Homo sapiens: one gene and its partner. The protein of the gene in region 1 purifies or fractionates together with the protein of each later gene. This does not show direct contact. Each region holds a gene or a part of one and is shown on either strand. Other genes may lie near its edges.

Region 1 (5,569 bases):
GGAATATCAAACAGGAGCCCTTCAGCGCTCGTGTTCTGGTCCTATGTGTATTTAACTCCATCTTGCCAGGTAACATGGGTACTTGTTAATTTGGTCATGCATAAATTCACGAGGTAAATAGAAAGCTATTGCCTATGAGCACCTTTGCTTTGCCTACTTTTTCATCTAAACTTCTATACATCTATGCCCATCTTGACCTCTTTTGCATCTACTTTATAAATGAAGTATCCTTCATCCAGTCTCAGGTCAGTCTTTCATCTTATGGCTTTCACTCAAGTTGTGCCTTTCTCTGACAGTGGACAGTCCACATTCATGCTGTGTCTTCCTGTTCGCTATTAAGTTCATTGTAATCTTGCTCCTGATTCCACCAAGCCACTTAAATGCCCCTTGTTGAAATTACTAGTAACTTGTAGAAATTACTTGTAGAAATTACTAGTAATCCATATTCTAATCCAGTGGATGGATTAAGATGTACTTTACCCCTTATCCAAGTTGACCTCCATGAAGCATTGGGTGCTGCTGACCACATTTTTAAATCTCTCTTGTCACTGTTTTCTTGCCTTTTTTTTTTTTGAAATCGGGTCTCTCTTTGTCACCCAGTCTGAATGCAGTGGTGTCATCATGGCTTACTAGCCTCGACCTCTGGGGCTCGAGTGATCCTCTCGCCTCAGTAGCTGGGACTACAGGTGCATGCCACCATGCCTGGCTAAGTTTTTATTTTTTGGAGAGACGGGGTCTCCCTATGTTGCCCAGGCCATTCTCAAACTCCTGGGCTCAAGTTATCCTCCTGTCTCAGCCTCTCAAAGTGCTGGGGTTACAGGCTTGAGCCACCATGCTTGGCCTTTTGCCACTATTTCTTATTTTCCTCCTGTCTTTCCGACCATACCTTGATTTCTTAAATATATTTATTGCATTTTTTTGTCTATTATAGAGATATATGAGTACCTAGTACTATGCCAGGTGCAGAGGACTCAGAAGTGAACAAGAGATGTATTATCTTTACAGTCTGGGAGCTTTTATAGTTTCCCTTACTTTTCCTCTTTTCTTTACTCATTGAATGTTGGTAATGTTTTCTGTCATCACCTTCCCTTTCTTTTCTTCTCTTGCATTCCTCTTCCAGTAACCCTCCCTCACCAGCCCCAGGACTTATTTGAATGAACTCTGTATCTGTCCCTAAAATAGAATATGTGTTACATACTTGAGTGTCTTCCTCACTAGCTGCAAAGTTATTGAGTTCAAGGATTGTGTTTTATAGCCAATCACAGTCTCTCTCATATTGTCTGGTACATAGTTGATGCTCTATAAATATATATTTTTCAATAAATGAGTGAAAGAGATGGACATATAAATGGATATTTTACAATATATTGTAATATGTACTACATAAGTAGGATAAACAAAATGCTTATGGCCTTTGTTTCACATTAGAGATAACATTTAATATTGGGTATTGAAAAATAGGTAGGTATTTGCCTGGCAGAGAATTGGTGGAAAGGTCATTCTAGGTAGTGGGATGGATGCAAGGGCATGGAGCATTCTGGAATGGCATAAACCCAGTTGTGGATAATGTTTACAACACTTAGAGGGTAGAATCACTGGAGATATGTTTAGAATGTTATCCATGTCACTATGTTAACCATGTCACTATTAACATTTTGGACTGGTTAATTCTTTGTTTGGAGTGGCATTCTTCTGCATTGTAGCATAAACTGTTCAGCAGCATCCTGGCCTCTAACAACTAGATACCAGTGGCACCACTCCCTCTCCTCCAATTGTCACAGCACTGGTGCAGTAGCTTGCACCGGTAGTCCCAGCTATTCTGGAGGCTGAGGTGGGAGGATCACTTGAGCCCCAGGAGTTGAAGTTCAGCCTGGGCAACATAGTGAAACCCTGTCTTTTAAAAACAAAAAGTCTCTAGAATTTCAAATGTCCTGTGGGGGAGAGGGGGCAAAATCTCTCCCAGTTTTAAACAATTGTTTAAGAGGGGGGTATGGGGGCCAGATTTTTAAAGGACCTTGGGTACTAAGTTAAGCCATATATTTAGGCATTTCTTAAAAACAGACTGGGTAGGCTGGGCGCGATGGCTCACGCCTGTAATCCTAGCACTTCGGGAGGCTGAGGTGGGCAGATCACAAGGTCAGGAGATTGAGACCTGCCTGGCCAACATGGTGAAACCCGGTCTCTACTAAAAATACAAAAAATTAGCCAGATGTGGTGGTACATGCCTGTAGTTCCAGCTACTTGGGAGGCTGAGGCAGGAGAATTGCTTGAACCCTGGAGGCAGAGGTTGCAGTGAGCCGAGATCGCGCCACTGCACTCCAGCCTGGGTGACAGAGCAGGACTCTGTCTCAAAAAAGAAAAAAAAAAACCAGACTGGGTAATGTCATTTGTTGAACCCACTTTGAAGGAAGTTACTGTTTTAAAATTAAGATAATTAACTCCAAAAGTATATCATCTCTGGAATGGGTAAACTGGAATAATAACTTATATTTTACAAAATAATCCCAGCTAAATAAAATGATGTGATATAATTAGTTGCTTGGTATGTGAGCTATTTGGAAAGACTGTTAATATTGTTAATCTTATTTTTAGGTGTGCTGATTCTCTTCCTTACTTTTTTTGCCTTTTTGCACTGCTGGCTCAATGCCTTTGCTGAGATGTTACGCTTTGGTGACAGGATGTTCTATAAGGTAGTATATACTTAGACTTAGCTTTCTTTTTACATTTTATTAACTTCTTCATTATTAGTATTTTGACATTGTTGGCTAATGTCACCAGCCTTTCACACAAACATTGTGAAATAATTTTCTTTTCTACAAGTTTTGCCAGTATTTTCTGAAATTCGGTTACAGATATAACTAGCATAACCTTGTGTTTTCTTCTGTCTCTAATATCTGCTCCCTTAACATAAGCACATGGTTTCTGCTGGATCCTGCAAGGATATATTGGTGATTCCAGTAGGAAACTGTTTGTTCAGAGCACACCATGAGACTTCCCTGAGTGTTCATTCATTTGAAATGGACCGTCTAGTTCTGTAGGAATGACCTCAGCAAATTATTCCATTTAAGACAATTGAGCAGTTCATGAGGGAAATAACTTTTCCCTCTTTAGTTTTGAAAGGTGTTAATTTTGCTTCAGATAGTATCCTTATGCTTCTAAAGTTGGAATTAAGCTATAGAATTAGAGTCAGAATGGCTCATAGCATTCTTTAACCCTACCTAAAGCTCTCTTTGAGTTGTTTTTGGCAACACTCCAAGTCTACCACCTTTTTTCTCAAAGAAACTTTAAGTGTGGATTGCAGATTTTAGATACCTGATTTCATTCATCTGATCTTAATATTGGGAGCAAGAAGCATATATAGGGATACCAGGACTTTGAGGTAGCCACCATCTCACCCTGGATAATTTTGCCATTTATGGTAACCACCAAACAGCTCTCTAGTGTTAGCACTCTCTCTGGTCTTCATGACCATAGAATTTTCTCATGACATTCTAGTAGGGTAAGGGGGGTGGGGCTTACTGATTGCTGTTTAGATGAACATTAGATTTAAATGATTCTATGTGTTCCGTATGAACCTAGGAACTAAATCATATATAGTATGAGAATTCATGTCATATTCAACACTAATAACCAAAATGCCTTTGAAGATTTTTCTGTCACCAGTGTATGAACCAACAGTTTATCACAGTATAATTTGATTTTTCTGTTACATATGTTCTTTGGGAAGTCAGGGGGGTTTGCTTTCGGGTGGGATGTGTGTGTGTGTGTGTGTGTGTGTGTGTGTGTGTGTGTGTGTGTGTGTGTGTGTAGTTTTATACCTTTACTTTTTCCCTCAGGATTGGTGGAACTCCACGTCATACTCCAACTATTATAGAACCTGGAATGTGGTGGTCCATGACTGGCTATATTACTATGCTTACAAGGACTTTCTCTGGGTAAGTAGCAAGGTTTAAGTTGATATTATTTATGAAATGGAGATTCTTTTTCAGAAAGTATGAGTATTATACAGCTGGAAGAAGTTATATTTAATTGCTCATGAGGAAAGGGTGATAGTATCTTTTCAGTTTTCTTTTGAGAAATTTACATCTAGAAACCTGCTTTGAATGGTACTGCTTAGAAACCACTGTGTGTACACTAGTAGGTCTAATACTGTGTCTTTTGCTCTGAATTTTATCTTACATAACAAAGTAAGAATGCATGGAGGTTGTTGGAGTTGAAATGATCCACCAATAATGGATAGTTTCTTATGAGTCTTGTTGCCAACAAATAATCTCCCTTTGGTCTTTTTCATTCGTTTTTCATGGTTAAAGGTAGAGAAACACTTTTTTTTTTTTTTTTTGAGAGAGTTTCGCTCTTGTTGCCCAGGCTGGAGTGCAGTGGCATGTTGTCGGCTCACTGCAACCTCCTCCTCCCGGGTTCAAGCGATTCTCCTGCCTCAGCCTCCCAAGTAGCTGGGATTACAGGCATGCACCACCACGCCCAGCTAATTTTCTATTTTTAGTAGAGATGGTGTTTCTCCATGTTGGTCAGGCTCATCTTGAACTCCCGACCTTAGGTGATCCGCCCGCCTCAGCCTCCCAAAGTGCTGGGATTACAAGCATGAGCCACCGTGCCCGGGTGAGAAACACTTTTCTGTGAGAAACACTTTTGTGTGGATTTTGTATCTCTCCAATCAGTGACACCTGGCTTTGAGACATTCTTTAGAGCAGAATATACTTAGACTGATGAGATGTAATCTTGAATCTCCTGGTTGATAAACAGGTATCTAGATTACAGTTTTTATTAAGTGAGGGCACCATTTGGCTTAGTGACAGCATCTTATGGTGGAAATAGCATTGTATTAATATTTGAGTGCTAATTCTGTCATTCAAGTGTAGTTTCACATACGGATAAGGCAAGTCCCTTTTCTCCTTCTGAAATCTTAGTTTTGTTATGTGTAAAAATGGAGAGGACAGTTGCCCCATCTACCATACAGTGTTACTCTAAAGACTGAAATTCAATATGTTTCATTTATATAGGAAAACTATGTTTTGTCAGTTGTAATAACTTACAAACATAAGTTATTGATATTTTTGAAAATAGACTCAGATATTTGAACAATAATAAGAGTTTGTAAGTGTATATGATTTGTAGTTATTTTAATAGACTTGGATTAATCCAAGGAGTAGACTTAGAAAATTAAGTACAAATACAATAGGTGCCTTTGGCATATAATTTTACATCCTATATAATCCATGCTTGCTTTAAATTTTTAAAAATTACTTTGTAGTGTTTTCCTTTTTCTTTAGTTTTTCTCCAAGAGATTCAAATCTGCTGCCATGTTAGCTGTCTTTGCTGTATCTGCTGTAGTACACGAATATGCCTTGGCTGTTTGCTTGAGCTTTTTCTATCCCGTGCTCTTCGTGCTCTTCATGTTCTTTGGAAGTAAGTATCTTGGTATGCTGTGAGTACTGGGTACTATGCTAAAAAAGAAAACCAGATAGAAAGGAAACTATAAAATCAATGTAGGAGAACTAGATAGTAGTAGTAACATTTTAAGGTAGTACTTCTTTATCAGATGGTCAGAATA
Region 2 (4,534 bases), on another chromosome or scaffold:
CCCAGGTTCAAGTGATTGTCCTGCCTCAGCCTGCTGAATAGCTGGGATTACAGGCATGCACCACCACGCCTGGCTAATTTTGTATTTTTAGTAGAGACTCCATGTTGGTCAGGCTGGTCTCGAACTCCTGACCTCAGGTGATCCACCCGCCTCGGCCTCCCAAAGTGCTGGGATTACAGGCGTGAGACACCGCGTCTGGCTGTGAACTTCATTTTTTAGTATTAAGCCTACCAGACTTTTTAAAAAGACTATTATAACATTTAATGTCTATTTACCTGTATGTAGAACATAAACTTGAGAGGTAAAGATAAGTTAATACATGGTTTGAGCCCTGGACTGAGTTTTTTTTTTTTCCCTAGAGTAAGGACCATTTGTCGGTCTACAAATGACTTGATGTTTGGCCTAAACATTTACTATTAACTTTTAGGGAGGGCTTGTTAGTATCCTTGTGATCTATTCACAGTTAAGAATTTCCATGACCACAACATGCTTCCTTAGATCCACCTTTGTGGATGAATCTTGAACTGAGTTCCACTTGTAAACTTCTTGTTTCTTGTGGTTCCAGTAGTCAAAGAAACATCCAGCAACTTTTTTGGTTGTATAGTCAAAGGTGCTTGAGTCATTGGCATGTAAGAGAAATATACCTGCATGTTAGTCTAACGTTCTGATAGAAATGACATGCATTTATGCTGCCATTTGTTACTATCAGGACTCGACTCGTGTGCGGACATTTCTGTTAATAATGACAGTCTCTGATAGATGAGTGTATGCAACTGTGTAAAACAAGTCTCTTGATTTCCTAGATTCTACAAGGGGGTTGCTCCTCTCTGGATGAGACAGATACCATACACCATGATGAAGTTCGCCTGCTTTGAACGTACTGTTGAAGCACTGTACAAGTTTGTGGTTCCTAAGCCCCGCAGTGAATGTTCAAAGCCAGAGCAGCTGGTTGTAACATTTGTAGCAGGTTACATAGGTACGAATTACTTAGAACACACTTGTCTGAAATTATGAACAAATAATCATTTCCATTATTGGCGTTTTTTGAGAGGGAAAAATACTCCAAAGGTTATAAAGCAGTGTTTTTGTTTTTTTGGTTTCCCTGAGGCATAGTCTCGCTCTGTTGCCCAGGCTGGAGTGCAGTGGCATGATAATAGCTCACTGCAACCTCCTCCTCCTGGGTTCAAGTGATTCTTCTGCCGCAGCCTCCCAAGTAGCTGGGACGGGCATGCACCGCCATGCCCGGCTGATTTTTGTTTTTGTTTTTTGTTTTTTTTTGAGATGGAGTTTTACCCTTGTTGCCCAGGCTGGAGTGCAGTGGTGCAATCTTGGCTCACTGCAGCCTCCGCCTCCTGGGTTCAAGCGATTCTCCTGTCTCAGCCTCCTGAGTAGCTGGGATTGCAGGCGTCTGCCACTACGCCCGGCTAATTTTTAGTATTTTTAGTAGAGACGGTTTCACTATGTTGGCCAGGCTGGTCTCAAACTCCTGGCCCCAGGTGATCTGCCTGCCTTGGCCTCCCAAAGTGCTGGGATTACAGGCGTGAGCCACCGCGCCTGGCCTGATTTTTGTAAAGATGGGGTTTCACCATGTTGATGAGTCTGGTCTCAAACTCCTGACCTCAGGTGATGTGCCTGGCCTATAAAGCAGTTTTATCTTCCCATAACATTTTATATGCTTTTTAGGATTCATAAATACTTGCTAACTAGTTCCTAAAAGGGCTGTTTCATGGGATGTCATTATTAGGCTTGGGAATGTATTGATCTTACTGTTGCACCATTTTTTTGTTGTTGTTTATTAAGAATTTTATACAGAAAGTGTTGAATAAAATCTGAAAAACTTTAAAAGATTGTTCCGTTTTACATAGGATAGACAGCTTGATAACTGTACCCGTGTCACCCTGAGTCTGATTTTTATTTTAGAACTAGAAAAATATTATTTTAAAATCATAAAAATGATTATTGGCTCTGTGAAGTTTTGTTTTTAACTGGCACTGTATGGGATCCTTTATCTTTTTTCAGCTGGAGTCTTTTGTGCAATTGTTTCTCACCCTGCTGATTCTGTGGTATCTGTGTTGAATAAAGAAAAAGGTAGCAGTGCTTCTCTGGTCCTCAAGAGACTTGGATTTAAAGGTAGGATGATGTTTTTTTCTTGAAAGAAAGAACAACAGTTTTGGATATGTTGCATTTTTTTCATTTGCTTTTCCTGTTTGAACCAGGTGTATGGAAGGGACTGTTTGCCCGTATCATCATGATTGGTACCCTGACTGCACTACAGTGGTTTATCTATGACTCCGTGAAGGTCTACTTCAGACTTCCTCGCCCTCCTCCACCCGAGATGCCAGAGTCTCTGAAGAAGAAGCTTGGGTTAACTCAGTAGTTAGATCAAAGCAAATGTGGACTGAATCTGCTTGTTGATCAGTGTTGAAGAAAGTGCAAAAGGAACTTTTATATATTTGACAGTGTAGGAAATTGTCTATTCCTGATATAATTACTGTAGTACTCTTGCTTAAGGCAAGAGTTTCAGATTTACTGTTGAAATAAACCCAACTCTTCATGATTTGCCTGTGACTTATTTTTAAAACTTTTTTAAAAAAGATTTAGCTTTAAAATAGTTGGAAAGAATGAAGTATATAAGTTAAGGAAAAAATACAAAACTGACCATGACCATTGTTGGTTGAATATTCCAGTTGCTATTCAGAAATTGTCATATGTCTCAAGTTTTATCACACAAAGTTCCTGTATTTCTAGGGAAGCAGACTTTAAATTTCTAAAAACTTGATTTAATTATAGTTAAATATGTGTAGTCATTTGTGGTTATTTTGGCAAGTAAATGTCAGTGTATACTTACATTTTTGCAGCATGTACTACACCTTTTTTATGTTGGTGAGTTTGCTAATCCTTATTTGTAAGACAAGGTAAACCAAATTAGGCTGATTCTTAGAATGACAGTAAAGGACCAAAGTGATTGACAGCTGAAAACAATTTTCAGGTACACTAATTCTCTTTACACAGATCTGACTTTTTTTTTTTTTGAGACGGAGTTTCACTCTTGTTGCCCAGACGAGTGTAGTGTCGCGATCTCGCCTCACGGCAACCTCTGCCTCCCAGGTTCAAGCGATTGTTCTGCCTCAGCCTCCCAAGTAGCTGGGATTTCAGGCATGTGCCACCACGCCCAGCTAATTTTGTATTTTTAGTAGAGACGGGGTTTCCCTGTGTTGGTCAGGCTGGTCTCGAACTTCCAACCTCAGGTGATCCGCCCGCCTCAGCCTCCCAAACTGCTGGGATTATAGGCATGAGCCACCGTGCCCGGCTCTGACTTTTTACAGAAAATTGAACTATTTTCAGTCTGGTATTTTAAGAAAGGTACTGCTTGACAGCTGAACTATATGAATGCCACTGGGGAAAAAGCATTCCATCATACTTAGATACGAGATTGGATTGTAGGTTTAAGCCCATTTTTAAAGAGCTCCTAGAAAGTGAATTAGTTTTTGTGTTTAGATTCCCCTTAAGTTTGATTAGGAAGTGTATAAAAGTTCAATCTTTTGTAATGACAGCCCACCACTGGAAAAAAAACGAAAAACCTAGTGTAATATATAACATGCTGTTTTTCAAACACTAGATTTTACCTAGAGTCCTTATGTGTAATACGTGGGTTGGTTAACAGTCCCTACGTAAAGCGTACAGATGGCCTGGAGAGAAAAACTTTTTCAGAGATTGGAGAGAAATGTTACTACAAACTCATGGTAAGGTCAGTGAACTCAATTTAGAAGCCAGTGCAGCTAGTTGCATGTTAACTTCTTTATATCATCATTGCCTGAACTTGTTAAAGGTTCCAACATTTTACCTGTGCTGCAGGAAAAAAGGAAAAGTTGTAGGTACAAATTTGGACCAAACTTTAAAAAGGTAAAGTAGGATGTCTTCTGAACCCAACCAAGTGGTGGCTGTGGTGCTTAGCAGTATCAACTGTATATTATTTCTTGCTATGTTAGCAAAGCATCCAAAGATCAATGGTGTATGATAAGCTTTTCTGTGGGTGAAGAACTCGGGAGTATCAGACTCTTCTGGTTCTGAGTCTCATGAAGCTTTTCACTTCTGAGCTGAAAGGATGCTCTTTGTGCTTTTCACTATTAGTGGTATAGTCTTTCCCGAAAATCTCTAGCATGGTGGCTTCAGGGCAGCTGGACTTAGGTGGTATTTTGGGGCTCCAGGAGAGCTTGGCAGAGTTGGCTTTTTAGGACTTATCCTTCAATGTCACATAACATCACTTTTACCATGCTCTTGGTTACAACAGTGATGTCTCAGAAACCAAGTCCCAGATTGAGGAAAAAAGGAACATAGTCTCTACCTCTTCCTGAGAGGAAAGTCAGTCAACGTGTAAGAGGAGCAGTAGAAACGCATTAGTCCAGCCAACGTGAAAGTGGACCGTAGATCTAAAACATTTTGGGTATGCAGTTCAGCCAGCCCTTACTGAGGCAGTTCTGCCAATCAGGATTCAAGTTTTATTTCCTAAGAGTTATAATAGGTTTTATTTGTG

What was found. Proteins that work in one complex are often made in the same cells at the same time.
Region 2: the proteins of SOAT1 (region 1) and SLC25A3 purify together in Homo sapiens (affinity purification with mass spectrometry, with the first as the bait; one large-scale study listed by BioGRID). This does not show direct contact.

Annotation. Positions count from the first base shown.
Region 1 is NC_000001.11:179,345,008-179,350,576, forward strand, and holds part of SOAT1 (sterol O-acyltransferase 1), read left to right. Parts: coding exon 1-69; intron 70-2,592; coding exon 2,593-2,690; intron 2,691-3,836; coding exon 3,837-3,935; intron 3,936-5,288; coding exon 5,289-5,424; intron 5,425-5,569.
Region 2 is NC_000012.12:98,599,152-98,603,685, forward strand, and holds part of SLC25A3 (solute carrier family 25 member 3 isoform b precursor), read left to right. Parts: intron 1-483; exon of another isoform or gene 484-733; intron 734-803; coding exon 804-976; intron 977-2,019; coding exon 2,020-2,130; intron 2,131-2,216; coding exon 2,217-2,377; 3' UTR 2,378-4,534. UniProt on the Homo sapiens protein: Inorganic ion transporter that transports phosphate or copper ions across the mitochondrial inner membrane into the matrix compartment. Mediates proton-coupled symport of phosphate ions necessary for mitochondrial oxidative phosphorylation of ADP to ATP.